Linked DNA regions of Homo sapiens: regions 2, 3 and 4 are each linked to region 1. Evidence: fine-mapped expression QTL. A gene starts in region 1. Each other region holds a variant in brackets. All regions are shown on one strand. Distances are from middle to middle. Region 1 holds the start of GSTM5 (glutathione S-transferase mu 5). Region 2 overlaps AMPD2 (adenosine monophosphate deaminase 2). Region 3 holds the start of GSTM2 (glutathione S-transferase mu 2). Region 4 holds the start of EPS8L3 (EPS8 signaling adaptor L3).

Region 1 (7,662 bases):
TCAGACAAAAGCTCCCTGCACAGACGTGGCCTCCCCAGGGCTGTAGATGGCCCAGGCTGGCCACAGGCAAGCAGCCATCTTCCCCACAACTAAAACCGGGGCAGTGCCCAGGCTTCAATTGGATACATCAGCATTTATTAGACTCTGACTGGGTGCCAGACCCTATCTGAAGTGATCAGAATGAGATGCTCTTCCTGAATCTGTCCTCACTGGCCTCCCAATAGCCTCTGGGTCAGCCGCATGAGCGCCCGAGCACCTGGCAGCCTCTGGATCCAGACAGGGGCAGAATCAAGGATGCAAAGAACTAAAGGAGCTCAGGGAAAGAAGTAGAAAGTTCCTTCTAATGGGGTGACAGAAGAAAACAATGAACATTGACTAGTTTCCAGGGAGATGAGAAGTTCAAGTTGAAAGGAAGGAGGGAGAGGAATAAAGGCCCTCTGGCTGCCTCTGAGCTGTCTGTTATGAAAATGCGCAGATCCCGGTGCATGTCAATGACAGCACTTGGAAAACTTTGAGGAGAAGATGCAATTTGAGGGTGCCATTACATTCCTTGGTCTTGTACTTGAGTCTGTATATTCTAGGAGCAGGTAGGTGATATAAATCAACTGACAGAAATGACCCATGACAGAGGCCAGAGGCCAGAGGAGATGAAGGAGATTCTGAACACAAATTTTACCATCTAGGAATTGAATTTCCACCGTGGGATGCCTGGATCGTGTCCTAAGATTGGTGGGAATTGCCTCTGCTTTTGTTGACATGACATTGGAGTCGTGAGAATAACTGCTGATAGTATGGGAAAGCACTTGGAGGATGAGTGGTACCAAGGACTTAAGAAAAGACCAGTGCGTGCAGGAATGCAAGAGTCCTGGCCCCAAATCCAAACTCTGCCAGGTGCAGCTCACTGGGGAGACTCACAAACTCTGGGTGGTAGCAGATCATGACCAGTTGCATCCAGTTGTCCGTGGTCTGGTTCTCCAAAATGTCCACAAGAATCTTCAGAAGAGGAGAAGATTCGTGTGGACATTTTGGAGAACCAGGTTATAGACGTCTCCAGTCAGCTGGCCGGAGTCTGCTACAGACCTGACTTTGGAAGTCCCTCCCTGGTCTGGGCCAAAAGGCAGGGAAATGGGTGACTGGGAGTGGGGTGTGGGACTCACAAAATCTGGGTCATAGCACAGTCTGACCAGCTCCATGTGGTTATCCATAACCTGGTTCTCCAAAATGTCCACACGAATCTTCTCCTCTTCTGTCTCCCCACCTGCCACCCACAAAACACAGACTCAATCTCAGCATCACAGCCCAGCCAAGGAGGAGGTCACCTTCCCCCCGCACATTGCAGCCACCCACACTCACACAGGTTGTGCTTGCGGGCAATGTAGCGCAGGATGGCATTGCTCTGGGTGATCTTGTGAGCCCCATCAATCAAGTAGGGCAGCTGGATAGATGGGAAACCGGGGAAGCTCAGTTGGGCCACCAGGCTCCCCAGCATCCCCTTCCCATATGCAAGGGCAGAGAGGAGACCAGGGCCTGCTCATGGCAGGCCTGAGATAGAAATACTGTCACACTAATAAATGAGCTGGGACACAGAACATCATGCAAGGGCTGTGTAGACAGCCAAGAGTGAGAGGAATTGGGCAGAAGACTCCTGATCTTAACACCTCTAAGGTGGGGAGAGGAGATGCAGTCAGAGACACGTCGCACTTTCCCCCAAAACCGCCCCTTCCCCTGCACCTACATTGGGAAAGTCCAGGCCCAGCTTGAATTTTTCATTCAGCCACTGGCTTCTGTCATAGTCAGGAGCTGTGGTGGGGAAGAAGTGAAAACAAACCTCCCCAGAGCCCAGCCCTCCTTCCCGGGGACCCTCCCAAGGAGCCAGTGGCAAGATCCCTGAGACAGGTGGATCTAGAATCTGACCACTCAGTCCCACATCCCAGGGTTCAGGGAGAAAGAATCCCACTGAGGGCTCTGGACCCCACAACGGCTAAGGCTTCCAGGGTTTAGGGAAGCTCTGAGGGACACCCAACCCAATTAGACAGGGTGTCCAGCATCCCGCCCCAGCATTCTGCCTTGCAAGGCCAGAGGGCTCACTCACGGGAGCTCAGGGAAGGGACAGCCTGCAGCTCCAGCAGGGGAGGCCTGCAGAGGCAGCCACAGGTGGCCACCATGGGTTGCTTGGTGCCAACTCAGCGTGAGTGGGCAGGGCCCGGACACGAGGGTGCCATTACCGTCCCCCAGCGTGTACTTCTTTTCCACATAGCTTGAGTCTGTGTATTCCAGGAGCAAGCGGATGGCGTGGGCCAGCTGGGAGAGATGGCCCGCGGCTCGGGTCAGAGATGGAGGGTCCCTGACTTGGTGACTTTCTCTGCACCAGGCCAGCCCCTAGTCTATACTGCACGTACCCGTCGCCTCCTCTACCCGCCCCCACCCCCAAACACACACACAGCGTCATGCACAGGCCCTTCTGAGGCGGGCAGCCCTGAAGAGGAACGGTCCCTAGAGCCAGTCCTGCAGCTACTCCACACATCCCCGCCTCCGCCCCCTGTCCCACCCACCAGAGGACCCTCGCTTACCCCACGGATGTCCCAGTACCCCAGAGTCATGGGCATGGTGCTGGTTGGTGCGGATTCTGCAGACAGGCATCAGCGGAGCGGGGCTCAGACTTTGAGAGGCCCAGGAGGGGACAGGCGGGGCCTTGCTGCGACCCCGCCCCTCGGCCCGCCACAACCCCGAAACACGCCATTCTGTAGGCCCCCGAGCGAGCGCCCGGGGCTGGAATCAATAAGCCCCCTCCCGCCTCCCAGTCCCCAGGGTTCCGGGAGCGAGGTCAGGGCGCCCAGAAGCCCAAAGCGGGGCTCGGCCTCGCCAGCTTCCCCAACCCGCCCTGAGGCTCCATGAGTCCATCCAGCCCTTGCTAGGTCCACAGCGACTTGGCTGTGCGCTTGAGACACCAGCCAGATCCTAACGGAGCAAAGCTCTTCTCCCTTCTCCTCCCTGCCCGCAGAATCCCTCAGCCTTCTCTCCGCTGCCGAGTTCCCAAGGGCTCTGGGAGACTCCGGCTGCAGGGGTCAGACTAAAAAGTGGTGGTCCCAACCTGGGAATTTAATTCAGCCCCTGTCACTGTAAGAGCAGGACTTCCTCTGATCCGAAAGCTACTCCGAGGGCTTAGTCTCCCCTCTAGCCCCGCCTACACAGGAACAGTGTCAGTGGTATAGGAAGGACCCCCAGGAAAAGGGCCAGAGTAAAGGAAATGTGGTCTGTGTTTTCTGTTAGGGGCCTTTGGATACTGAGTCCTTCGGTCATCTGGCTAAGTACTATGTAAATTAGCCACTTCGTATTTTGGCACAATTTATGAATCGAAATCCAAGGATCAGATCCAGCAAGTTGGTGAGGTATCTGAGGTGCCCCCTAGAAATGTCCAGCCAGTCCACTAGGTGAACCTCACAGAGACCGGAACAGCAACAGCAACAGTGAGTGCAGTGGCCACAGAGAGCAGGCGAGGGAGGATGGAAGAACTTCCCGGACCAAACTGAGGGTCCGGCTGCTATTTCTCTAGGCCCAATAACGAGATGCAGATCAAATGGGGAGGAAGAGAGGTTTTATTTCTGCAACCAGTTACAGGGAGAAGGCCTGGAAATTACTACCAGACCAACTCAAAATTAAAGTTTTCCAGAGCATATATACCTTCTAAGGTATATGTCTACAAGTAAGTGTGCATTCATCTAAAGACATAAGTGATTAACTTCTTTAATCTGTAACTGAGGTCTGGGTCCTGAGGACCTTACTCTGGAGCCTCAGTCTATTTACTTAATCTAAATGGGTCCAGGTGCGGGGGATGATTGCCCTTATCTTGTCTCCTGCTAAATCATGGAGGTTTGGGGAGTTCCTTCAGATGCCCAGTAAACTTGTTTGTGGAGGCCTGGGGAGTTTCTTCAGACTCACAATAAAACTTGTTTAATTCTAAATAGGTCCTGTTAAGAATTCCTTCGTTGTTTTGTCATGCTTTAAGGCCCAGGAAAGGCCTAAGCAAAACTCTTGGTGGGCTTTTGTTACATCCAGCCTCTGTATAAAGGTACTGGCTTTTTTCAGCTTTTAATATTTAATTTCATCACTCAGTCAGTACTGAAACAGTTGTTATGGAGGCCTGTGTTAGTGACACCTGGTCTGCCACAGAACCTGTCCCTCAGAGAAGCCAGAACCCTGTCCTGCTGAGGAGGGAGGTCAGAGGATGGTGGCCAGAGAGGAGCCTGAGGGCTCCCCACAGGATCACAGGCAGGGACTCTCCCCTCTCCAGATCCACCATGCCGGACCTGGACCTGGCTCCTGACCCATGTGTGTTCTTCAGTATGAGACGGTGGCTCCAGTGGCCTTTGAAGTCACACCGTGATATGTGACCCATGGTACAACCTCCGCAAGAACAATGTCCAACCTGCCAACTTTCTTCTTTCAAGGTAGAAGGAAGACTTTCAAAAGAGTTGTGCAATGGATTAGCCTGGGGTTGACTGCTTTTTTTAAAGGATATTACAAATAATAATGGATATATGGAAATAGATGATAGACCTTTAATGAGAAATCATTTTGCAATGTAAACCAGGCTGTTGTGCTGCAAAAAAAGTAGTTTTTTGTTTTTTGTTTTTGTTTTTGTTTTTTTGTAAATTAGCTAAAACATTGTTAGGACTCCAGAGGATGAACCCAGTATATCAAAAAAGTTTCAAACCACCTGGATAATGTGTGGTTTGGGGTTGAGTAAACAGGTAGACTTCATCACATCCCTATTAGGCCACAGAAATCAGGTGGTCAGCAGGTGGCTGCTAAGTTGGGGCACTTGGACACTGTGTCACTGAGGCTGGCAAGGCACAGTCCTTGTTGCAAACACTCCCCACCCATCCAGACCTGGGCAGTACTCCCAGCTCAGATACCTGGCAGGTATCCATGTTTAGGAAGCAGTTTTGGCCTCACAGTGAATTCTCACATAGATTTTCCTGCATTGAGGCAATAGCACCAGCACAGACACAAGTGCCTGGCCCTAGGAATCATTATATTTCTCATTATGCATTAAGAGTTTATGATTTTGAGTTAATGGGTCTTGAGCTGTGAAAGATAAGATGTCTAGATCCAATTGATAAAAACGATTTTTTAAGAAAGCTAACACTCATGAGAATAATAATTTTGAAACACATAGAACCAGTACTGTTACATTAGTATTGTTTGAAATACTTGTTCCTTGGTTCCATAAAGAAATAGCACTTGAACATAAATTTAATTTCCTCAGCAAGGCTATCGGGGAAACTGCCCCCAGTATTTCAACATAGGTTCTATTTTCCATAAGTGTCAGCTGGCTGAGAAATAAAGAGAAAGAGTACAAAGAGAGGAATTTTACAGCTGGGCCGCCAGGGGTGACATCACATATCAGTAGGACCGTGATGCCGGCCCGAGCCTCAAAACCAGCAAGCTTTTATTAAGGATTGCAAAAGGGGAGGGGGTGTACGAACGGGGGGTAGGTACAAAGATCACATGCTTTAAGGGGCAAAAAACAGAACAGAGATCACATGCTTCTGAGGAAACAGGACAAGGGCAAAAGTAGAACTCCTGATAAGGGTCTATGTTCAGCAGTGCACGTATTGTCTTGATAAACATCTTAAACAACAGAACACAGGGTTCAAGAGCAGAGAACCAGTCTGACCACAGATTTGCCAGGGCCAGGTTTTTCCCCACCCTAGTAAGCCTGAGGGTACTGCAGGAGACCAGGGTGTACTTCAGTCCTTGTCTCAACTGCATAGGACAGACATTCCCAGAGCGGCCGTTTATAGACCTCCCCCCAGGAATGCATTCCTTTCCCAGAGTATTAATAGTAATATTCCTTGCTAGGAAAAGAATTTAGCAATATCTTCCCTACTTCCATGTCCATTTATAGGCTCCCTGCAAGAAGAAAAATATGGCTCTATTTTGCCTGACCCTGCACGCAGTCAGACCTTATGGTTGTCTTCTCTTGTTGCCTAAAAATCACTGTTATTCTGTTCTTCTTCAAGGTGCACTGATTTCATATTGTGCAAACACACATGTTTTACAATCAATTTGTACAGTTAACACAATTATCACAGTGGTCCTGAGGTGACATATATCCTCAGCTTATGAAGATAACAGGATTAAGAGATTAAAGTAAGACAGGCGTAAGAAATGTAAAAAGTAATAATTTGGGAACTGATAAATGTCCATATTAAAATGAAATATTTGCAATTTATGTTCCTCTGCCGCGGCTCCAGTCAGTCCCTCCATTCGGGGTCCCTGACTTCCCGCAACATCTCTCCCTTTCTTTTTATATAAATGTGCCATGGTGATGAAGGCTTATTCGTTCTCTCGGTTTTGACACAGGATTCTTTGGCTGGTCCGGCACACAGTATCCAGATTCCTTCTCGAGCTCCAACCAACATTACACTTTTCCTGGAGTCAAAACGGGAGTCAACACAAGTGTATAAATGACAATGCATTGGACAGTTTGATTGTTTGTCCAAATTTTGATATTTGCCACTAACAGCATGTAAGGAAGCTTAACACAACTCTGTATAGGAATAGTCAGGTTGGAGGTAAACAAAGCAGAATGCTTGAATCTATGTTGATACTGAGGGAGAGGAGCGGCGGTGGCAATGCCCGATGTTCTCCACCATAAAGAAGCAAACCGAGGTGCCTGGGGATGCTGAAGAAGTAGAGGGGCATACCTGGGTCGATAAGAATTATCGTAATGCCAATTGGAGTCCCGTAAAGGAGGATCGGCATCAAAAAGAGGAAAAAGGTTCAAAGGGGATTTATCATGGGGTTCAGAATCACAGATACTGGCAGTCCAGACATGACAATAGCCAATTTCGAAAGTTCTGGGTGTTCTGGGCTCAGAATGGGGAATATCATACAAGGCCTTGGGGGTGGAGGGTAATGTCCTTATCTTCCCATTTTAAGGTAAAGAATGAGCCGAACCACCTATGCAAAGTAGGATGATGATCCTCGTCCTCCCAATAAGAAATAAAATAAGTAGCCTCCAGGAATTCCCCTCCCCCAGAGGAGCAAGTGTTTTTTAAATAGCCCTTTGGTGCCCAGTCTATTACTAAAGCATATGAGTCATTTTTTAATACTACTGCATGTGAGTTAACACAATCTCCCCAAATTAAAGTTTTAGATGGGCCCTCAAAATTTTTAGGACATAGTTTTCCTACAGGTTTATATTGAAAGTATGGGGTATCTCCTATTACTCCCCTTTTCATTTGTCTTAAAGGACAAAGGGAGAGGCCGGAGACCAAATGTCCCCATTTTCCTGTAGCTAATCTCTCCAGAAGATAAGCAGCCCAGACTTGAGTTTCTAGATGGATACAACGAGTTGCATGTCCGAGGCACAGAGGAGGGTATTTATAACCCATAGTAACATTAAATGCAGTGCCTTCTTCTCCTGGTTGAGCAGGGCAATGGTCATCTATAGCTCCAGGCATCTACACACTATCGTTAGTGTAGATTTCCGCAGGAGCATTCATCCAGGTGAGAGGTCGAATAAGTGGAGGAAAAGGCACATAAGCCCAATAAGAATAATTTTGTGTAGCAGGCAAATCAGTGTGAGGGGAAACTGGTGAGACAGAAAGTATAAGGAGTAGAATTATTAAATAAAACCTATTGTAAGCGAGA
Region 2 (7,939 bases), 75 kb after region 1:
CAGAGGAGAAGGAGGCCCAGGGCTGACCCAGACTCTTCGAAACCCTGGTTCCAATATATTGCTCATCAAGCCACTTCTGGTTGACTTTTTAAAAAAAATCCTGTGCTTGTTGTTTTCAGTCTTTATTGTAAGCTGATAAGTAGCTTATCAGCTCCTGTGTGCTGGGTTAGAGGGAGTTGGTTTCTATGGGCAGTCACATTTGCATGAGGGAACGGAGTGAGGGCCTGACCAGTGGCCTCCTGAACACCAGCTGCTGGTCCATCTTGCATCTGTCCACCCAGGGCTTTCGATGAACACCATGGAGAAGCCTCTCCTCCTCTCGCCCCTCCTCCTTCCACCTTGCCCCAGCACCTGCTTCTCTCCCAACCAACTTCCATCCTGACTCCAGGCTCTGAGGAAAGAGCTGCAAGGAAAGGCGAGGCACCTGCAGCAGGTATTGGCCTCCTGGCCTGCTGGGGAGAAGGAAGAGGTGGGTAGAGAGAGGGAGGCAGCGAGGAAGCCATCAGGAAGGCAGGAGGACCAGCTAGGAGCAGGCTCACCCACGCTACGAGGCAAGGAATATTCCCCAACAAGGGAGCAGTTGGTGGGCCGCTGGGTATTGTCCCAGGTTCCCCTGCTACCCTGTGACAAAACCCGAAGGCCGCTTATCTCAGCCGTATCCTGGCTGGATGTCGCTGTGTCTCAGCTGATGTGAGATTCAGATGCTCTGAGACAGCCTGGTCATGCAGGATTCTGGAGGTTGCCAGTCCACTGGAGAAGATACGCCATAATGGCTCCACTTGGAATCTGGAGTCAGATGGGCCTGGGGCTGAGTCCTGGCTCTACCTGATGACCGCTGAGTGACCAGAGCTGATTACTTAATTTCTTTGTGCATTAGGATAACCATCTGTGAAATACGGATAACGCTAATACATACTACACAGTGCTGCTGTGAGGGTTTAAAAAGAACAGTTATTCAGGGAAAGAAATGAGATAAATGGGAGTTAGCTGATGGGGCCAGGAGTAGAAGAGCAGGAGCAGGGGCGAAAGAGGCTGAGATGAGGGTGGGGCGCCAAGCCTCCACAGCTGCCCAGGAGGTGCACTGGGATTCAGAGCCAGCAGGGGCTCTCCCAGAGGGTGCGCAGGCCCAAGGTGGTAGGAAAAGTGAGAGGAGGGAGCTCAGCGGAGTTAAACAGACACACATGAGGCCAGGCGCAGTGGCTCATGCCTGTAATCCCAGCACTTTGGGAGGCCAAGGCGGGCGAATCACCTGAGGTCAGGAGTTCGAGACCAGCCTGGCCAACATGGTGAAACCCCATCTCTACTAAAAATACAAAAATTAGCCAAGCGTGGTGGTGGGCACCTGTAATCCCAGCTACTTTGGGAGGCTGAAGCAGGAGAATCGCTTGAACCCAGGAGGCAGAGGTTGCAGTGAGCCGAGATCATGCCACCGCACTCCAGCCTGGGCGACAAGAGCGAGACTCCGTCTCAAAAAATAAAAACATAAATAAATAAATAAATAAATAAACAAACACATGGGCACTTGCCTTTGAAAGTCTTGGCCAGGCACGGTGGCTCACGCCTGTAATCTCAGCACTTTGGGAGGCTGAGGCAGGCAGATCACCTGAGGTTGGGAGTTCGAGACCAGCCTGACCAACAGGGAGAAACCCATGTCTACTAAAAATACAAAATTAACTGAGCGTGGTGGCGCATGCCTGTAATCCCAGCTACTTGGGAGGCTGAGGCAGGAGAATCGCTTGAACCCGGGAGGCAGAGGTTGCGGTGAGCAGAGATCGCGCCATTGCCCTCCAGCCTGGGCAACAAGAGTAAAACTCTATCTCAAAAATAAATAAATAAATAAAAAACCAGTCTTAGTGACCCCATCAAGGCCCAGGCCTCACACCCTGTTCCACCCTCGCCATCCCCACCTCAGCTTCACGGTCACCTGGAGCCATCCTCCCACCCCCAATTAGCCCCCTGGCCAGGCTCTGACTCAAATCTCCAGCAGGTCCCAAAGGGAGCTCAAAATAAGAGCACTGGGCTGGGAGTCCAGCACCAGGTCCTCACTCCACTCTCCACCTCCTATCCCTGTGACCAGGCAAAGTATGGGACTCTCTGACTTTCAGTACCATTATCCATTATGGACTTGTAACATTTTATAACTTTTGTTTAGCTCACACCTGGTTCCAAAAGGATTTGAGGCTGCTGGGAGGAATAATCACACTCTTGACCAACTCAAAAGGCTGTTGCAAAAACCAAATGTGGAAAATTATAAAGCACAAAGCAAGCATGGTATTATTGCTATTTTCTCCAAAAAGGAATTAGCCCACCCTTCTCTGTCCCCGCAGTGGAGTTTCTGACCTAGCTCCATAGTTGTTCAAGTCCCCTGTCGTTGAACTCTGCCTTATAAACAGCATTTAATCTCCATAGCAAACCAATACACGTGGACCCCGATATCCTCATTTGATAGATCAGAGAACTAAAGCTCAGAGTTCCTAGAAATTTTCAGGATCTTATGGCTAATAAGTGACAGCTGTGCCGTGGGATAGAGCCCGGGGATCACAAACCCAGTACCTCTCTGGCAGTGTATGGACTGGGATGGGTATAAGGTAACCGGGAGGGGTCAGGCTAATAGCCGCCTCAGAGCATTCACATTCTCGATCTCATATCAGGCTGTGCCAGCCAATCACAATCCTGTGGCCACCTCTGCCACCTCTGTCTTAACTACTGGTCTTAGCAGCCTCCCCACAAAAGCTCCTCTCCACCCACACTGCCACCAGCCAGGTCCTTGTCAATCACACCCGGGATGTGGCAGGAGCCTCCTCCATGACCCTTCTGCCTCTAGACTCACCCGCACTGATCCTTCTGCTCATCAGAGCCTGACCCTGTCCCTTCCCTGAGCACCCCACCCCTAGAGGGACCCCCTCAACCAGACACGTACCCCAGGGACCATGATAGAGTAGGAGGAACAAAGACTTTGCAGCCTGACAGTTCTGGGGTCAAATCCCAGCTCTGGCACTCATTAGCTGAGTCATCCTGGATAAGTTACATAACCTCCCGAACCTCATTCTCCCTGTTGACGCGAGGGAATATGGTGATAGATATCATGCAGAGTTCTAGGAGCTGGAAGTACATTCACACTTACAAAGAGTTCAGCCCAATGCCAGGTGCTCATAGGTATTTTACCCCACCATGGCAAATGCGTAGTAGACACACCAGCATACCCCAGCAGTAGCTTGGGACCCTGGTGGGAATGGATTGGTAGCCACTCCCCTTTGCATATCTCCTCCAGGCCTGGGAAGTCAGGGAGGAGGGCTGACTTGCCCAGCTAATAAACAGAACACTCAGGTTTAAACCCAGGTCAGTCTCTCATCTGCAAAGGGGAGACAGAAATTCCAGCTGTGCATATCTGTTGCACAGATTCAGAGAAGATGCCAGTGGCAGCAGTAGCTGCTCCAAATCTGCCCAGACTATTTAGGGAGGCAGGAGAGTTGAAGGTGACGGCAAGACCAAAATCTGAGCCAACCCCCCTGGCCCAGAGTGGGACTGCGGGGCTGAGCCATTTTAAGTAAGTCCTTTATAGACCCTGCATCTGATTCTTGGAGGCCCCACACTCACTTGCATTTAAAATGCACCCACACCCCCTCATTAAATATAACTGCTTTGCTTTAAAGGGGTTTTTATAAATTTGCTTTTGAAATTACTTGACTATGAGTAACTCATTTAATTTACTATTGGCTATGCTTTCTCTTTAATCATATTGCATATTCTGGAACTCTTGTCAAAAATCCAACTTACAAATTGTTTTCAAATATAATGGCATGTGACTTAACAAATATTGAAGTTGACATGCTACTTTCTGAAGGCATTTCATTAAACATTTGTCAATTTCAACTTTTTTTTTTTTCCATATTTTGCAGCCCTCAGAGGTTTTCTTTCAGCTCTCCCATGTTGCCAGGGGGTGGGGGTGACATTGAGGGTCTGCCGGGAGAAGACAGGTATGCGCACAAAAGCAAGGCACTTAGATCGCCCCCATTTCTAGACTTGCAGGCTGCCTGCTTCAGGCCCAGCTGCGGAAACCACCCACCCCAGGTTGCCCAGGGCATCCTAATTTGGGCAGTTTCACTCTCATTTTGAAAATATAGTGATTTCTCAAACATTGGATTAAACCTGAGTTAAGGCTTAAGCCTTTATTGGAATTTCATATGAATACATTCATAAGTGAGGCAATACTTTGATAGGGTAAATGTTCTGATGTAGGGTTTAGAAATCAGGATTATTGTCACCCTAACCAAACACCCTTACCCATCCTCTACCGCAGCCTGGGGGCCCAGATAGCTCCCCACTTGCTCCCCTCCAC[T/C]CCCCCAGGAGTGGACACGGAGAGGGGACCCCGTGCAGGGCATGTGAGATGTGGCCTGGCACACAGCCCTCATACTTCCCAGTCTGAGAGCTTTAGGGACAGATGAGGGACAGTCCCCCAGGGTCGACTTCACTCAGGACAGGTCCCAAACCTTGGAAGGAGACAGGTTGGGTTGCCTATTTTATTTACTCCCTCTGCCACCCACCCTCCTTCCCCCTCACCCCCCCATTCCATGTGAGATCTGGCCCCTGACCAGGAAGAAGATGCGGGCACCTTCACACACGCAGGCACACACAGCAGGTCGAGAGGAAGGGCAGGGGGTGGGGCTCCAAAAGAGGAGAGGAGGTGGCGGGCTGGCATGGAAGGTGCAGGCAAGGTCGAGGGCAAGGAAATGACTTTTTATTTCTGCTCACATACTTTGATTCATTTCTATCAAGAACAGTAAAAAAAATTCTACCTTGGACCTGGTGATTTCACTCAGGGCATCTAGACTAAGGGAATAATCTGGAGAGATTTAGGCAAAGATAATAATAGCTAAGATTTACTGAGTTCTTGCTTGGTGCTTTATATCCAGTGGCTGAATGAATTCAAAATCAACCCGTGAGAAAAGTGCTATTATTATCCCCATGAAATGGGTGAGGACCTGGAGGCACAGCGAGGGGAAGTAACTTGCCTAAGGTCACACAGCCTGAAAGTGGTGGAAACAGAAGTCAAACCCAGAGTGCACACTGTTGGTCACATTAGGACACAGTCATTCTTAACAGAGGAGAGCTGTAATCATAAACCATGGGAGGCTCACCGGGGGTGGTGCACAGTAGTTCACATTCATATTTGCAGAGTATTTTGATGACATGTGGAAAGACGTATGTTAAAATACTTTTTAAAATAGGCCGGGGTCAGGCACGGTGGCTCACACCTGTAATCCCAGCACTTTGGGAGGCTGACGTGGATCACCTGAGGTCAGGAGTTCGAGACCAGCCTGACCAACATGGTGAAACCCCATCTCTACTAAAAATACAAAAAATTAGCCAGGTGTGGTGTCACGCAACTGTAATTCCAGCTACTTGGGAAGCTGAGGCAGAAGAATCACTTGAACCCAGGAGGCAAAAGTTACAGTGAGCCAAGATTGCACCACTGCACTCCAGCCTGGGCGACAGAGTGAGACTCCATCTCAAAAATAATAATAATAATAAAAAATTTTAAAAAGCCTAAATCATTCTTGTGATCTCAACTTAAAAATAGCATTTTAAAAAGAACTGAAAAGAATACAGAAATATGCACAGATATGCATTAAAATATCTACATATATCTCAGGCATGCAGCAAATATTTGGTGAAACTGGTAGATTATGAGTGGGCTTTTATTTCTTCCTATTTTTCTATATTTTCCAAATTTTTTTTAATGAAAATGATTTTCTTTTCAAATAGGAAGAAGTATTAAGGCCTTTTAAGATTATTTTCTCTTGATAAATATTTGAAAGAGAAATTTCTGAGAAACTAAGAAACCAGAGGCAAGTTGTTTAAAAAATAAATTGTGGGTTGGGTGCGGTGGCTCACGCCTGTAATCCCAGCACTTTGAACCCAGGAGTTCAGGATCAGCCTGCACAGCATGGTGAAACCCCGTCTACAGGTGGCACGTGCCTGTAGTCCCAGCTACTCATGAGGCTGGGGTGGGAGGATCACTTGAGCCCAGGAGGTCACTGCAGCCTGGACAATAGAGCAAGACCTCGTTTCAAAAATAAACCGTGAAGAGGCTGCTAAGGAACTTTAAATTAGTAATATTCTTAGAGCTAAGCCTCAACACACACTAAGAAAAACAGGAGACAAGAAAGTGAACTGAAGGATTCTATTAAATGACAAATTCAACAAGTAAATATGGAGTCCTAAGTGCTGGCAGACAGGACAGGCAGTTCTTGCCTCCAAAAGACCTTCTAGAAAAATCTTTTAATCCTGCTTCCTTGTTAAAACAAAGACAAGACACAGCTCACTTGTGTTATTAAATTATTCACCTACTTGAAAAGTGAGTTCCCCTCACCCTTCTAAGGGGGATCCTTGGGCAGCCGAGGCCCAGCATGGGTGAAGGAGCCCTGGACTCACCACCTCCCACCCTCATCGGGCTCCAACGTTCAATTCTGTGACATGTAAGTGGCCAGGATGAATTGGCAAGGGGTGTCTTCTGAACTGAAGGGCCTTGGGTCTTGACCAGGAGAGGGCTTGGCCAATGGGAAGTGGAGAGGGATGAGGAGAGCTTCTTCCCGGGGCACCCACTGGGAGACCCAGGGCCAGGTGCAGACCTGCTTGCTGAAAGAGGCTGGGGTGGGGGAGAGCAGCTGACAAGAAAGGAGGAGGAAGCCAGCAGCCTCCCAGCCTCCCCCTCCTGCTCCAGCTGCTCTGGCTCTGGGCAGGCCCTCAATTAAACAGGCTCATGCTGTTCCAGGGCTAATTGCTTCTGAGGCAGCCAGCCAGGGGAGGACAGGCCTCCCCAGCCAGCAGCAGGGGCAGCGACAGGCTTCTCTCTGCCCACCCAGGACCCTGCACAGCCCAGGGCACATTCCACTTTCCTTCTTTACCTGGGGAACAGACTTCAGCAACCTCTGTGCCAGGGAGGTGCTCCAGAAATTGTGTATTAAACATGGGACAGAGGCTGAGATGGGATTGGGGCGGGGGCGGGGGGCTGGAATCGGAATGCACAGGCTTGTTCCAACCTCTTGCAATAGAATCTGCCCGAGAGTTTGCAGATGTCTGTGCCACACCTTCTGCCTATTGAATCAGAATCTCTGAGAGTATGGCCTGGAGAGGGCCATCTAAACAAGACCCCCCCAGAAGACCCTGGTCTCAGGTTTGTCTGTAGGTGCATATTTCCCATCTACCAGGCCATCCCCTCAGAGGCTGGAAGAGGGGAGGAAGTACAAGGTGGGAAACAGACACCAGCCCCCAAGCTGGTGTGACAGGGATGTGTCACAGACCCGGGGCTAGGTGTTCCCCTCACAGGGAACAGGCTGGATGAGGGTTGGATGGGCATCTCCTCTCTCCCACAGCTTCTTTTGTCAGTTTCCACATGCACAACATACACATCACCCAAGCCTAGTCCCTCCCCTCAGAATGCACGGTGCCTCCATCCACAGCCACCTCCCACCACGGCGTTCCCTCTCCCAACAGAAACCCCACCTGCCTCATTACTTAAATAATCTTTATTTCTCATGCACTAGGAAAGATGGTTCGTATGAAACACTGCAGTTCACAGCAAAGGCCTCAGTCCAGAACACAACATAGGGGCCAGCTGGGATCACAATCTGGTCAAAGCTCTGGGAGCCACACTGGGAACACCACTCCCGGGGTTGAGTGGCAGATCCAGGACTTTGCAGCAACTGTGGCCCCAGACATAACACAAGGCAGCTGCCCTCTCCCACAGAGGCACAGGAAGCTGACACCCAAGGAGCACGTGGGCTGGGGACAGGACGGAGAAGGCTGCTGGGCAGTGACTTGGCGGAGATGTGGTCCAGCACCTCTGCCGCCTGCGTCTACCCACTCAGGCCAGGAAGCCCAGGCCTGTGACTGAGCTCTAGGCCCAGCTCTACCCAGTGCAGAGCTGCTGGAGTTC
Region 3 (7,281 bases), 40 kb after region 1:
TCTTAGGGTCCCCAGATCTGCGGAGTTAACTCTTCCAACTTCCTTTAAGTAATGTTGTACCACAGTAACAGCTAACACTTATGAAGATTCTACACGGTGCTGGGTGCTCTGTACCCAAGAGAAATTACAACGTAAGCTTAGAAAACCCACTCGACTACTCTGCAAGGCTGAATCTATTATCACCATTTGTCATGTGGGAAACAGAAGTTCAGCAACTTCCTTACATTTAAATACCTAGTAAGGGGAATAGAACTTCAATGTAGCCTGGTTCTGTCTCTCTCCAGTTCTGGCCTCTTTCTGCCAAATTCTCTTCTTCTTCTGCCCCACCACCCCTCACACCAGGCCCTGTCACTCCTTGACTGCACAAACAGTCTCCTTTTCCACAGGGAGGCTCTTGGCTTGTCTGGGTATAGAGACACAGAAGGGACCTCCAGCAGAACAAAGGGGCTCTGAACACACTCACCCAATGTCTCAGTAAAACCTGGATGAAAGTGGAATGGGGAGTGGCAGTGCACAAGAAAATCAAAGGCGAGACTAGGCTCTAATCATTCCCCTTAAAGCAGAAAGTCCAAGGTTCTCCATCTGGTATCTTAGCAAAATCTCACTGTGCCCTAACCCATGGCATCTCCAGCCCTGCTGCAGATCAGGCTACATGACACTCAGATGTGCTGTGCACAATCTTACCAGGATTGAATGCCCAGATAAGGTATTCAAAAACATCCGGCTCACACCTGTAATCCCAGCACTTTGGAAGGCCGAGACGAGTGGATCACCTGAGGTCAAGAGTTGGAGACCAGCCTGGCCAACATGGTGAAAACCCATCTCTACTAAAAATACAAAAATTAGCTGGTCATGGTGGCGGGCACCTGTAATCCCAGCTACTTGGTAGGCTGAGGCAGAGAATTGCTTGAACCCAGGAAGCGGAGGTTGCAGTGAGCCAAGATCGCACCAATGCACTCCAGCCTGGGTGACAGGCTTGACCCTGGCACATAACGGGCCATAGCTCTCAGCTCTCCTCCATCCCTCCCTTCCCACCACCTCTTACCTAACTCCAAGGCCACTCAGCCTGGACCAGAACCGCAGAACCAGAGCTGATGGGAACTAGCTGAGCAAGCAGATCTCTTGATGGGGAGTGGAAAAGGGAAACAGATTCAAGGCTCAGAAGCCTGTTGGACAAATGCCTCAAATCCCCAAATCTGTAGTAATGTAGGATTTGCTGCTCTCAAACAAGTTCAGCACACACTTCACAGGCTGCTCTGCCTGCAGGCCTCTCACTGCACTCATTTCCAGGATGGGGCTGTCATCTATGCATCTCCCACTGTGCCTCACACCCTGCCTCATGCAGAGGAGAAGGTCAGTGAACAGGAGTAAAATCAGCGTGCTACTCATCTCACAGGGGGAACACCTGGAACATTGGAGGGAAAAAAAGAGAGGAAGAGGCCAGGCGCGGTGGCTCACGCTTGTAATCCCAGCACTTAGGGAGGCTGAGGTGGGTGGATCACCTGAGGTCAGGAGTTTGAGACCAGCCTGGCCAACATAGCAAAACCCCATCTCTACTAAAAATACAAAAATTAGCTGGACGTGGTGGTACACACCTGTAATCCCAGCTACTCAAGAGGCTGAGGCAGGAGAATCACTTGAACCCAGGAGACAGAGGTTGCAGTGAGCCGAGATTGCTCCACTGCACTCCGGCCTGGGTGACAGAGCAAGACTCCGTCTCAAAAAAAAAAAAAAAAAAAGAGGTAGAGAAGGAAAGTGCTCCAGCACAGGGCATTTCAGCATAAGCTCCTTCAACAGGGGCACCCACATATGTACCTTAATCCAGCTCCAGCCACAGCCCTGGCTCTCAGGATTCCCCACATGGGGGTTCAATCATACAAAGTTTCTGGGTGTAGCTGTGAATACTGCCTGTGGGTTCAGTATTGAACATCAATGCTACTGTGTGTCAGTCCTACTATTGCCAGCTGCATCCGTGGTCCTGAAGTGCTCTGCCTCTTCCAAAGTGTCCTGGGCTATGAAACCCAGGCTGGACAAGGCCTGAGGCTTTTCTTTTGTCACAAAACGGAGAGCCCTGACTGCCAACCATAGATCCAGAGGCTCGCAGGGAGCCCAGCACAGCCTCCACTGGCTCTGGGACCCTGAGCAAAGGACTGACCCTCTCATTCTCAGTTTCTTTGTCTCTAAAATGGGGGAGATAATTCTACCACCCTGTAGGAATGTTGTAAATTTCAAATTCAACACAATAGGTATAATGTGCTGGGTACAGTTCGTGGCATGAAGCCAGCACTCAATAAATGCAAGTTATTCTTTTCTTCTTTTTTTTGTTTGAGATGGAGTTTCACTCTTGTTGCCCAGGCTGGGGTGCAATGGCACGATCTTGGCTCACCGCAACCTCCGCCTCCCAGGTTCAAGAGATTCTCCTGCCTCAGCCTCCCTAGTAGCTGGGATTATAGGCATGTGCCACCACGCCCAGCTAATTTTGTATTTTTAGTAGAGACAGGGGTCTCACCATGTTGGTCAGGCTGGTCTCGAACTCCCGACCTCAGGTGATCCACCCAACTCGGCCTCCCAAAATGCTGGGATTACAAGTGTGAGCCACCATGCCCGGCTCCTTTTTTTTTTTTTTTTTTTTTTCTTGAGATGGAGTCACACTCTGTCATACAGGCTGGAATGCAGTGGCACGATCTTGGCTCACTGCAACTTCCACCTCCCAGGTTCAAGTGATTCTCCTGCCTCAGCCTCCCAAGTAGCTGGGATTACAGGTGCTCGCCACCACGCCCAGCTAATTTTTGTATTTTTTTTTAGTAAAGATGGGGTTTTGCCATGTTGGGCAGGCAGGTATCAAACTCCTAACCACAG[G/A]TGATCTGCCTCCCTCAGCCTCCAAAGCGCTGAGATTACAGGCGTGAGCCACCGCACATGGCCAAAAATGTGAGTTATTCTTTGTGTAGCTCCAGGACTGGGAAAGCATCACAAAGGAGGGAAAGGAATAAGAGACATAAAGAGAAAGGAGGCTGGGGGCATCACCTCAAATCGGGAGATGAAGTCCTTCAGGTTTGGGAAGGCATCCAGGCAGCTGGGCTCAAATACTTGGTTTCTCTCAAGGACATCATAAGCGATGAAATCCACAAAGGTGATCTGGATAAGGCCAAGGATATGTGGGCTGAAACCTCCATAATATAGGAAGTATGACAAATCTGTGGTGTCCCCATCACACGCCCCCATTACCTTGTCCCCAAGAAACCATGGCTGCTTCCCCAGAAACTGTGAGTAGAGCTTCAGCATTTCAGGGAGTGCCTGCAGGTATTCTGGTTTCAGTTTCTCCTGAGGCAGAAAACAGCTGTCAACACCCTCAGACACAAGCTCCCTGCACAGATGCGGCCTCCCAGTTTTGTGCATGGCCCCAGCTGGCCGCGGGCAAGCAGTCATCTTCCCCACAGCTGGAACTGGGTCACTGTCCAGGCTTCAGCTGGATACATCAGCATTTATTAGACTCCAACTGGGTAGCTGGAGTCTTTCTGAGGTGATGGGATGGCAGAGCGGAATGTGACACTGTCCCTAAATCTGTCCCCACTGACCTCCCAACAACCTCTGGGTCAGCCCCAGGAGCACCTGAGCACCTGGTAGGCTCTGGACCAGATATGAGCAGAATCAAGGATGCAAAGAACTAAAGGAGCTCAGAGAAAGAAGTAGAAATTTCCTCCTAGTTGGGCAGCAGTAGAATACAATGGACATTGAGTGGTTTCTGGAAAGATGAGGAGATATTCAGAGGATAAGTGGAAGAAAGGAGGGGGAAAAAGAGCCTCTGGCTGCCCCTAAGCTGTCTGTTAGGAAAATTCGCTGATCTCAGTGTATGTCAAGAGAGCACTCGGAAGACACCAAAATTTCAGGTGCCATTACTCCTTTGTTTTGCACTTGTTTTCCTCATAGTTTGTGTATTCCTAAAGCAGGCAGATGATATAAACCACTGGGAGAGATGGCCCAAAGCACAGGTCATGGGTCAGAGATGGAAGGGATTCTGGAAGTAACCATTACTGTCTAGAGAGTGAATTCATACCCTGGGGAGTCAGGATTCTATAAGTAGATTGGTGGGGAATTGATTTAGAGGTTTTATTTGACACGACTTTGGGGTTTGAGGGTCACTCTGGTGGCAGTATAGGAAATAGCTTGAAGGATGAGTAGCACTAAAGAGTTCAAACAGAAAACAGGACCCGTGTATTTGGCAGGACCACAGTCTTGGCTCCTGATCAAAATGAGAGGTGAAGCTGGCTGGGCTTCTGGGTCAGGTGAGGACTTGGAGAACTTTTCTGCCTAGCCAAAGGATTGTAAATGCACAAATCAGCGCTCTGTGTCTAGCTAAAGGTTTGTAAACGCACCAATCAGCACTCTGTAAAAACAGACCAATCAGCACTCTGTAAAACGGACCAATCAGCACTCTGTAAAATGGACCAATCAGCTCTCTGTAAAATGGACCAATCTGCATGTGGGTGGGGCCAAATAAGGGATTTCCCCCCCCACCTCCGCCCTTCCCAAGCAGCAGTAGCAACCTGCTCAGGTTGTCTTCCAGGCTGTGGAAGTGTATTTTCTTTCACTCGTCACCATAAATCCTGCTGTTGCTCACTCTTTGGGTTTGAACTACCTTTATGAGCTATAACATTCACTATGAAGGTCTGCAGCTTCACTCCTGAAGCCAGCCAGACCATGAACCCACCAAGAGGAATAAACAACTCCAGACGCGCCACCTTTAAGAGCTGTAGCACTCACTGCGAAGGTCTGCGGCTTCACCCCTGAAGTCAGCAAGACCACAAACCCACCGGAAGGAAGAAACTGCGGACACATCTGAACATCTGAAGGAACAAACTCCGGACACACCATCTTTAAGAACTGTAACACTCACCGTGTAGGACCGCGGCTTCATTCTTAGAGTCAGCAAGACCAAGAACTCACCAGAAGGAATCAATTTTGGACACAAACTCTGCAGGGAAAGGGGAGACTGGGAGTAGGGAAGGGGAGACTGGGAGTGGGGTGGGGGGACTTACAAAATCTGGGTCATAGCAGAGTTTGGCCAGCTGCATACGGCTGTCCATAAACTGGTTCTCCAAAATGTCTTCGCGAATCTGCTCCTTTTCTGATTCCCCGCCTACCCTCGTAAAGCAGATTCACTCTCAGCCTCACAGCCCAGCCAAGCCGAGGAGGAGGCCACGGTCCCTCCCCGCATCTTGCAACCAAATCTACTCACACAGGTTGTGCTTGCGGGCAATGTACCGCAGGATGGCGTTGCTCTGGGTGATCTTGTGAGTCCCATCAATCAAGTAGGGCAGCTGGATAGATGGGAAACCGGGGAAGCTCAGTTGGGCCACCAGGCTCCCCAGCATCCCCTTCCCATATGCAAGGGCAAAGAGGAGACCAGGGCCTGCTCATGGCAGGCCTGAGATAGAAATACTGTCACACTAATAAATGAGCTGGGACACAGAACATCATGCAAGGGCTGTGTAGACAGCCAAGAGTGAGAGGAATTGGGCAGAAGACTCCTGATCTTAACACCTCTAAGCTGGGGAGAGGAGATGCAGTCAGAGACACGTCGCACTTTCCCCCAAAACCGCCCCTTCCCCTGCACCTACATTGGGAAAGTCCAGGCCCAGCTTGAATTTTTCATTCAGCCACTGGCTTCTGTCATAATCAGGAGCTGTGGTGGGGAAGATGAAGTGAAAACAAACCTCCCCAAAGCCCAGCCCTCCTTCCTGGGGACCCTCCCAAGGAGCCAGTGGCAAGACCCCTGAGACAGGTGGATCTAGAATCTGACCACTCAGTCCCACATCCCAGGATTCAGAGAAAAAGAATTCCAGTGAGGGCTCTGGACCCCACACAGCTAAGGCTTCCAGGGTTTAGGCAAGCCCTGAGGGACACCCATCATAATTACCCAGACGGGGGCCCAGCATCCCGCCCCAGCATTCTGCCTTGCAAGGAGCTCCCTCACCAGGGCTCAGGGAAGGGACAGCCTGCAGTTCCAGCAAGGGAGGCCTGCAGAGTCAGCCACAGGTGGCCACTATCGGTTGCTTGGTGCCAACTTAGTGTGAGGGGGCAGGGCCCAGACTCGAGGGTGCCATTACCGTCCCCCATCGTGTACTTCTTTTCCTCGTAGCTTGAGTCTGTGTATTCCAGGAGCAGGCGGATGGAATGGGCCAGCTGGGAGAGATGGCCCACAGCTCGGGTCAGAGATGGAGGGTCCCTGACTTTGTGACGACTCTGCACAAGGGGAGCCCCATCTCCTCCTCTCGTTCCTGCCTCACCCGCCCCCACCCCGCACGCCCAGCCACACGCACAGACAGCGGCAAGCACAGACCCCGCTGTCAGGGACAGCCCTGAAGAGGAACCGTCCCTAGAGCCCGTCCTGCAGCTGCTCCACACTTCCCCGCCCCCACGCACCCCCGTCCCACCGCCCAGCGGACCCTGGCTCACCCCGCGGATGTTCCAGTACCCCAGTGTCATGGGCATGGTGCTGGTTGCTGTGGATTCTGCAGACAGGCCTCAGCGGGGCGGGGCTCAGCGTTTGTGAGAGGCCCAGAGAGGGTAGAGGGGAAGCCTTGCTGCGACCCCGCCCCACGGCCCGCCCTGCCCCCGAAACGGGCCAATCTGGAGGCCTGGAGCGCGCTCATGGGGCTAGGAGTAGGATCTCCTCCCACCTCCCAGCCCCGTGGGTTTCAGGAGAGAGATCAGGACGCCCAGAAGCCCAGGGCGGGGGAGAACTGGTTGAGTCCAGGGGTTCAAGACTGAACTGAGCTATGATCGCGCCGCTGCACTCTAGGTTAGGCAAGAAAGAAAGGCTCTCTCTAAAACAGAGAGATTCTGAATAAAGTAATAATAGCCTAATAAAGAAAAATAACACAAAAGAACATTTGGTGCTCAGGGATTCACTGGATAAGTTTTCAAAACTTTTCAATGTATGATAGAGATTGTTATAAACTGCGGACATACGTGGCATGACAGACCTAACGTGGGAAGGACAACACAGGCAAGGATGATTATAACTCACTGTCACTTATCAGCCTAAATCCAAACGTCAGGAATACCGCCTCAGAGAAAAGAAAATGATGTTTTTGTCATAAGTGGTGCTGTGCTCCTAGGGAGCTTGCTGGGTGGGAAGAGAGACAGAAAGGTGGGGAGCAGGGGCTGGTGGACTTGGGGAGGGAGGAGAAAGCCCATGTGGAAACGTTAGAATCTGGGGTAATCAGAGGTCTTTGTATTCATTCGTTTTGTAAATTTCTCAAACTCTCATGTTAAATC
Region 4 (7,754 bases), 50 kb before region 1:
AGGCCATCCAGGGCAGCGTTGGTTGGGTGGTGATGGGAGAGAAGGCTGAGATATCCTGGGATAGTTCCAGGGAAGCTAAAGATGGGAGTGCTCCAGCCCTCAGACTCCACAGGACACTCCATCACAGGGCCCAGCACCGGGACCCTGCATTCTGCCCACGAGGGTCCGAGGCTCACTGGCACTCCCCCGCCCCCGCCTCCCCTCCTGCCCTGCTCCCTGGTTTCTGTTTATACCTGGCCTTGTTGGTTAGACTGTGAGTTCCCAGAGGGCAGGGGAGCCTGGCCCACTCTGAGTGCCAAGAAAGATTTTTCGATACCATGGAGTGCAGGAAGTGGGTAGGTTTATGACTAGAGATAGATGCAGGCCTCCGTTTTCCATCTTTGCTGAAGCTGGCCAGGCGTCCACCAGGGGTCTGGGCACAAGATGGGGTACAGAAGGAAAGAGAGTGGAAGAGCGAGAAAGGGCTGGTAAGGGGGCTCCTGCTGGAAGGGACAACAGTAGGGACAGAATGAGGGCCCTGCCAGAGGGAATCTCAGCGCTCCATGTAATGCCCCAGGGGCCTCAGTCCCCATCTTCTGTGACAAGATCCATGTCCTGCTCACAGGCACCACCCAGGTACACAGGATCACACACCTATGGGTGCCACCCACGCACAGGCATGGCACACACGCCAGCCCACAGCTTCCCCCAAGCCTGGAGTCCACCTCCAGCCGACCTGTGCCCTCACCACAGAACCCAGACTCTGGGCCATGTGTGCTCTCTTCTTCTGGTCCCAGCCCCGTGCCTGATGCTGACCTGTTCCCCAGAGTAGGCACCTAAAAGGCAGAGGGAAGAGGGGGCCACACCCCAAGGCTAGCAGTGGGGGAAACAGGGAAGCAGGGGCCTCTAGCTAAGCTGGGGACGCCAGTCAGCACAGACACTGCCGCAGGTCCAGGTTGATGTTGAGCGGTTAGTGACCAGGAAGCCTCCCCACCCACCAGAGTCCAAAGAGCACAGGCGTGGCTGCCTCTGTAACCTCATCAAAGGCAGGCTCTGCCTGTGGCCACTAGCAGAGAAGCTGCTGTCCTTCCACCACCAGCACCGGACCACCTGCTCCAAGACCAGCCTCCTGGGGGGACCAGGCACCCGGCCTTCACTGGCACCCAGGTAAGGGCCTGGCCCCCAGGGAAGATCGGGGCCCAGCCCAGTCACAGGGGATCTCAGGGCAGGTGGGGGCAACTCAGTGGCTTCCCAGGCCAGGTCTCCAGCCTGTTCCCAGCTGCAGCCCAGGGGATCAAGCCCAAGGAGGGGCTTGGGACTCAGCAGCTGGCTGGTGGGCTGGAAAGCAGAGCGAGGTCCAGGCTCCGGAAGGGCCTCTGGGATGCTTGCCCCAGGGTCTATGAGGTGATGGCCTTCCCTGCTCCAAACCCCTACATCTAGGGCTTAAAGGGGGGAAATGGGCTGTCACAGCTCCCCTACCCCTAAGGGGCAAGGCAGGCCAAGCCAGCTCCCTCTTCCCTCCCTGGGGTAGGGAATCTTTGGCTGCAGCTGTTTCCCCACCTTGACCTACCTACCTAGAGGGCCCCACAGGGCCCACCCTGGTGTTGAGGGAGTGGGGAGTGGGGCTGACCAGGGGCAGACCTCACTTCCTCTTCTGCATGGAGAGCATGGAGAAGCAGGAAGTGTTACAATGGGGGTTGGGGGAGGCTGGGGAAGGGGAACAGGCTTCTAGCCCCGCCTTACCCCTGGAGAGAAAAGGGGTCCTCCCAAACAAGGAAACCAGAGATCCAGCCGTCCCTTCCACATTCCCTTAATTGTTCACTGGCAGTTTATTTCCTTCCACACTGAGTCATCTTATCAGATCCTACGTCATTTTCACAACAGTCCTAATAAACAAGGGTATGGGTTGCTCTCTCACATGTTACCCGGGGTAGTCCAGTATTTCTGCACAACTGAGGTGTACCATGTAGACATGTGGATACCCACAAACCTCATTTGGATAACACATACCCTTGACCCGCACAGACTAACACCACCCCCACCCGGGACACACACACCACATTTAATTCCACTCCATTTCAACATGTATGTTCTCTAGACTCCCTCTGTGACTGCGCACAGCCCAGCGGCAGAGGCATGTTTATAAACCATTAAAACACGAAGCTTGCAATCGGACAGATCTGGGTTGCTCTCTATTAAACGTTCATTTGTGACCTCAGGCCTGTTACCGTCTTTGAGCCTCAGAGTCCTCATATGGTAAATGGGGACAATACCAGTACCTGCCTTGTGAGGTTGTTTTGAGGATTAGAGTGACTGAAGGTAACGCCGTTAGAACAGTGCTAGGCACGTGGCGCCAAGTAAGTACAAGTGGACGGCAGTGAGGAGAAACTGATAGGATGTTGGTAAGGGGCTCAGCACCAGGCTCACAGCACCGTGGTGGCTATTGTGACTATTGTTGCTGGAGATAAATGTACAAGGTCCAGTGCAGCATTAGGAGGGTACCCTGGGCAGGGTGGGGTTGGATGGTCCAGGAGGGCTTCACCAAGAGGGTGATCTTTGAGCTAGAATTTAAAGGGTTGGGGTCAGGAGGGGACCTGGGCAGAGGATACAGAGTACAAAAAGCAAAGAGCCAGGAGGCCTAGGGAGACACTTGGGGGAGGTCAGCTCACTGGCGAGTCCTGCAGTGCCACCATAAGTACACACACACATGCATGCAGTCTTCCCAGAGGGTCTACAGCTGAAGAGCCAGCATCAGCGTCCTCTCAGTTTGCAGAACTGAAACAGGGTCGAACAAGAGGGCCTCCTCTGGCGGGGTCGGCTACAGAACCCTCTGCTCATCCAGCATCTTTCATACCCAGGCCCAAGATAGGATCTGAACGCAGGTCCCTGTCCATCCAGGTTTCCTGGGCTCCTTGGCATGAGCTTTATCAGCCAAACCATGGGAGGCCTGGAGCCTTCCCTGAGGCCCAGCCATGCTGTGGCCTCCCTGACCCTCCCTTCCCTCAGCCCGGGGCCTCCAGGCCCAGCCAGGATGGAGGGCTCCTCAGTGGAGGACGCTGGCTGCAGATGGCTCCGGAAAGGGCCCCTGGAGCCAGGGGCTTTGGGTCTGGTCCCAGAGGCCCCCAGTCAGAGCAATAGCAACTGTCCTGCCCTGCTGTGCCTGGTACACCTTTCCCCAGCTCTGATGGCTGCCTCTGGTTCACTTTGGGTTCTAGGGAGCCGTCCTCAGCAGCGTCAACATGTCAAGGCCCAGCAGCAGAGCCATTTACTGTAAGCTCCTGGCAGGCCCCTCTCCCGTGCCCTCCCACTGAGCCCCCAGAATGTCCCATCCTCCACTCCCCCTTCCTCACACCAACTGCCCCCAGCAGTTGCCTGAGTCTCACCTCGTTCTTCTGCCCACCTCCCGCCCCTTGCTCTGTGCCCTTGTAGTGCACCGGAAGGAGTACTCCCAGAACCTCACCTCAGAGCCCACCCTCCTGCAGCACAGGGTGGAGGTGAGTACCTCTGCAGCCCCCGGGCAGTGTCCAACTAAACCCAAGTGTTCCCATGTGCCCACCGCCCTGCCAGAACATGGACACTTCACACAAGTCCCTGCCCCAGAAGCCAACAGCCTGTCCCAACCATGTCGCATGGACTCAGATCCAACAAGCCTGCCAGAGCATCTGCTCAGTGTCAGGGACGGGGAGGGGTGGTCAGATTGAACAGAGCAGGCCTGGCTGGAGGTTGAGCGGGTGAGTGTCCTGTCCCCAGACAGGAAGAAGTAGCAGCAGGATGGGATAAGAAGCACCTACAACCACCCACCCACCTACCCTCCCCTGTCTCCCAACCCCCTGCTGCCCGAGTCCCCAGGGCACTGCTCCATTGCCCAAGACCTTGCATGGCTGGAGGCAGGAGTGTGTGGGATCTTTGGGATCTTTGGGCCCTGTGGGGGATTGAGAGGGCCACTGTTGGAGAGGGGAGGCACCTGGGCCCAAGCCTCCAGGGTGACTGTGAGCAGCTCCGAGGCTGCTCCAAGGCTAGAATGGAGTCTCTGGCTCTACCAGGGAGGATGATGCAGGCACTGCAAGATTTAGGTGCCTGAAGGGCTGTCGACACCAAGGTGAAGGCGAAGCACAGGCTACAAGGGCGTGGTGGGGAGAGCAGGCAGAGGGTCAGGCTGGAGCTCTGGGGTAGAAGCCATCCTGTCCTGGCCACCACTTGTTAGTGGCTCCAATGGAGAACAAGCAGGGAGGGAGCTGGGGCGATGGTCTGCAGGTCCCACAGGGCAGCAGGTCCCACAGGGCAGCAGAGGCAGAGCTCCCCTAGCCAGCCGAGGAGAGGCCAGGAGGACTCAGCTTCTCTGTAGGGTGGAGGCTGGGAAGAGGCTTCTTTTAGGCCCAGCAGGCAGAGCAAGAGGAGGATGGAGTTTGCTCATGATGCCAGAGTCCCCTGAATATGCTGGCAGTGCGAACACAGGGAGAAGAGCTGGGCCCTGGGCAGGGGGGTGGGGTCAAAGGGCAGGAGGCAGGCTGCATCTCCCTACCACAAGAAGCCTGGGTGGAAGGGGCCTTGTGAAGGTAATGTTTGGCTGGGAGAAGGGAGGGGGCTCCTAAAGGAGAGTGGATAACAGCAAAAAACTCCTGGATGGTCAGCCTAGCAGTAGGCAAGGACTTGAGCGGAGACTGAGATCACGATGGATATCTCCAGGCATGAACCAGGGAGAAGGAGACAGGAATGCTGGGTGAGTGAGGAGGAAGACTGGGCTGGGACTGAGTTCCCAAAAGGAACAAAGGAAGCCAGGGACAGAATCTGAGGGTCCTGTATCACCTCCAGAGGAGTTATTTGTTGGGTGGCTGGAGCCCACATCCTCCACCACCCAGCTGCCTCACCTGGCCTGGACTAGTAAAGGCCATGCCTGTCCTTCCTCCAGAGTCCTCAAACCCCTCCTGCAGCCCCTCAGACTCAGACTTGGAGGCCCTATCCCTGGCCCCAGTGCTTCGACACCGTCCCTCACATTGGCCCTGGAAAGTTGCTTTATCTGAAGCCTGGAACCTCCTACCTCAAGGGGGCCGAGGACACGTCTTCTTCCTCTTCTGCTTTTCTCTACCCAGCACGCCTGTGGTCCACCTCTCTGAGCTTTCTCCCAGTCCTAGGACTCCCCCTCTCCCTGCAGCACTTGAT[G/A]ACATGCAAGCAGGGGAGTCAGAGAGTCCAGGGGCCCGAGGATGCCTTGCAGAAGCTGTTCGAGATGGATGCACAGGGCCGGGTGTGGAGCCAAGACTTGATCCTGCAGGTCAGGGACGGCTGGCTGCAGCTGCTGGACATTGAGACCAAGGTCAGCCTTCCCAGCAAACCCAGTGATAGCCAGCCTGGGCTGTGGGGAAGCAAGCACTAGCTCTTGAACTCCACCCTCCATGCCCCAAAGGGCAGCCACTCTCCCCACATACAACACACACCCAAGCCTAGGAAGAGACAGGGGACAGAGGCTGGGGACAGAGGCACAAGAGTCAGGTAGATGACACCTCAGCCCTAGGCCACCAAAGGGCTAGGATGAGCTGGTCAGGAGCTCCCAGAAGCCACACCTAGCTCTGGTGGCCTCACAGTTGACCTCTCCACCTGGCCCAGGAGGAGCTGGACTCTTACCGCCTAGACAGCATCCAGGCCATGAATGTGGCGCTCAACACATGTTCCTACAACTCCATCCTGTCCATCACCGTGCAGGAGCCGGGCCTGCCAGGCACTAGCACTCTGCTCTTCCAGTGCCAGGAAGTGGGGGTGAGTGGTCGGGGGTGATTGGTCAGGGGTGGGGTTCATCGACCATCACCCCACCACACACACACACACACACACACACACACACACACACACTTAGCCTGCCTGACTGCTGCTTCCCAGGCAGAGCGACTGAAGACCAGCCTGCAGAAGGCTCTGGAGGAAGAGCTGGAGCAAAGGTAGGCAGCCTCTGCCCAGCCCACCTATGGGGCCTCCCAGCTCAGCCTCGGGGGCCAGACCCTGACCCCATATCTTGGGGCACCCAGGAGGTTGTGGCCCAACCAACCTGGGCCTGGACTGAGGAGGAGCCAGGACAGAGGTGGGCATAGGCAAGGGGCTGGGCCCAGAGGGCACTAGAGACTGTCCTCAGAGACTGAGATGGGACCCAAGAGGGCCCAGAGGGTAGGCAGATGAGGCAGGGTGGAGTCAGGGGTGGGTCCAGAAGGAGACCAGGGAGCAGGGGGTGGGACTCCTGGAGAGAGGTGGTGGTGCCCCTGGGTCCTGGAGCAGAATTGTGGGGAGGGCCTCTCTCCAAAGAACCTTGTCAAAGATGTGGCCCCTACCATGTCCTCAGCAGACCTCGACTTGGAGGCCTTCAGCCAGGCCAGGACAGATGGAGGGGGCCTGCTATGGAAAGGCCGCTCCCTATGGAGCAGGCACGCTATCTGGAGCCGGGGATCCCTCCAGAACAGCCCCACCAGAGGACCCTAGAGCACAGTAAGTTTGGGGCATGGGGGCAGGTGAAGGAGAGGGTTTCGATGAAAAGTCAAAGATCTAAGATCTAGGTCCATGGTCCCCTTACACTGCAGGCCTCCCACCATCCCCAAGGCCCCTGCCACGCCACACCAGTGCCCGAGAACCAAGTGCCTTTACTCTGCCTCCTCCAAGGCGGTCCTCTTCCCCCGAGGACCCAGAGAGGGACGAGGTAACTGCGGATGGTCTTGAGTTTGCTGAGGCTTTCTGGGCCTGGGAAAAGGAAGGACACCAACCCTCCCTCTTTTTCTAGGAGGCCAGGGTCCCAGGATGGCCAGGGCCTGGGCCAGGAGGCCAGAGAGGCTTGTTTATACTCCAGGCTGGGCCTGAGGCTGGGGCTTGTGGTGGGGAGGGGTGCGGGGGGCAGTGTGGGGAGTTCCAGGGTGGGCCCAACTGCCCGTTCAAGGCCATGGGTTGTTTGGGGCCCAGGAAGTGCTGAACCATGTCCTAAGGGACATTGAGCTGTTCATGGGAAAGCTGGAGAAGGCCCAGGCAAAGACCAGCAGGAAGAAGAAATTTGGGAAAAAAAACAAGGACCAGGGAGGTGAGTACTGAGGGCCAGGGAAGAGGAGTAGGGGTGTCTCAGGGTGATCTCTGGCCCACCGTCTTGGCCCCTTCTCCCAGGTCTCACCCAGGCACAGTACATTGACTGCTTCCAGAAGATCAAGCACAGCTTCAACCTCCTGGTAGGTGGCTCCCCACAAGTTCACCAGGCCTCTCCTCTTCCCCTTCCTCCCCAGTAATCCTCTGCTGTCTGGACTCAACCATCCCAAGCCTTTTTCTTCTTCATCTACTCCCCCTAGAACCTCCCCTCCCCTCTTGGGACTTTTGGGAAGTGCCAGCCTTCCAGCCAAGGCATAAAACAATTATGGTGACCTGGTGAAGATGGGGTGGGGTGAAGGGTGGTGACAGGCATTGCTCTGTGTCCCCAGGGAAGGCTGGCCACCTGGCTGAAGGAGACAAGTGCCCCTGAGCTCGTACACATCCTCTTCAAGTCCCTGAACTTCGTGAGTCAAGGGACGACAGGGTGGTGAAGACGGACAGGCTGAAGTCAAGAAGGAGTAGAGAGAGGAAAGGAGCTGGTGGAGGGGGATGGGGGAGCAGGGGCCAGGGTGGAACCAGATGAGCTGGGGTCAGAGCCAAGGACGCCAAGGCTCTAAGGGAGACAGGAAGGAGCAGCAGGCCCAAGGCAGATGGGGCCCCTTGCAGGAGGTAACATCCTACCATTGCAAAAGTGGGAAGCCAGGGACTCTGGGCCTTTCCCACCCTCACTG

The links.
Region 2: its variant is fine-mapped to the expression of GSTM5 in subcutaneous fat (FUSION, PIP 0.93).
Region 3: its variant is fine-mapped to the expression of GSTM5 in tibial nerve (GTEx, PIP above 0.99). The same link has a PIP of 0.9 or more in lung.
Region 4: its variant is fine-mapped to the expression of GSTM5 in whole blood (TOPMed, PIP above 0.99).

The regions. Positions count from the first base shown.
Region 1 is chr1:109,707,257-109,714,918 of GRCh38, reverse strand. It overlaps GSTM5 (glutathione S-transferase mu 5), which reads right to left and starts at 2,668. Exons shown (of 8, transcript NM_000851.4): 1 at 2,571-2,668; 2 at 2,226-2,301; 3 at 1,736-1,800; 4 at 1,354-1,435; 5 at 1,158-1,258. The coding sequence starts at 2,606.
Region 2 is chr1:109,631,627-109,639,565 of GRCh38, reverse strand. AMPD2 (adenosine monophosphate deaminase 2) reads right to left here. Exons shown (of 19, transcript NM_001368809.2): 19 at 7,515-7,939. Among named protein-coding and RNA genes, the nearest start is that of AMPD2, 16 kb to the right of the region's middle. The variant T/C (reference allele first, on the strand shown) is at 4,340.
Region 3 is chr1:109,667,327-109,674,607 of GRCh38, reverse strand. GSTM2 (glutathione S-transferase mu 2) reads right to left here and starts at 6,551. Exons shown (of 8, transcript NM_000848.4): 1 at 6,457-6,551; 2 at 6,108-6,183; 3 at 5,619-5,683; 4 at 5,237-5,318; 5 at 5,037-5,137; 6 at 3,226-3,321; 7 at 3,025-3,135. The coding sequence starts at 6,492. It also overlaps a transcript of GSTM4 not described here. RefSeq lists an enhancer at 4,685-4,784 and a silencer at 6,300-6,469. The variant G/A (reference allele first, on the strand shown) is at 2,860.
Region 4 is chr1:109,757,214-109,764,967 of GRCh38, reverse strand. It overlaps EPS8L3 (EPS8 signaling adaptor L3), which reads left to right and starts at 1,045. Exons shown (of 19, transcript NM_133181.4): 1 at 1,045-1,146; 2 at 3,195-3,249; 3 at 3,409-3,473; 4 at 5,132-5,290; 5 at 5,581-5,730; 6 at 5,851-5,906; 7 at 6,305-6,444; 8 at 6,537-6,652; 9 at 6,910-7,024; 10 at 7,105-7,166; 11 at 7,413-7,487. The coding sequence starts at 3,219. LOC124904258 (a long non-coding RNA gene) reads right to left here and starts at 5,103. Exons shown (of 2, transcript XR_007066303.1): 1 at 5,018-5,103. RefSeq lists an enhancer at 3,673-4,402. The variant G/A (reference allele first, on the strand shown) is at 5,140.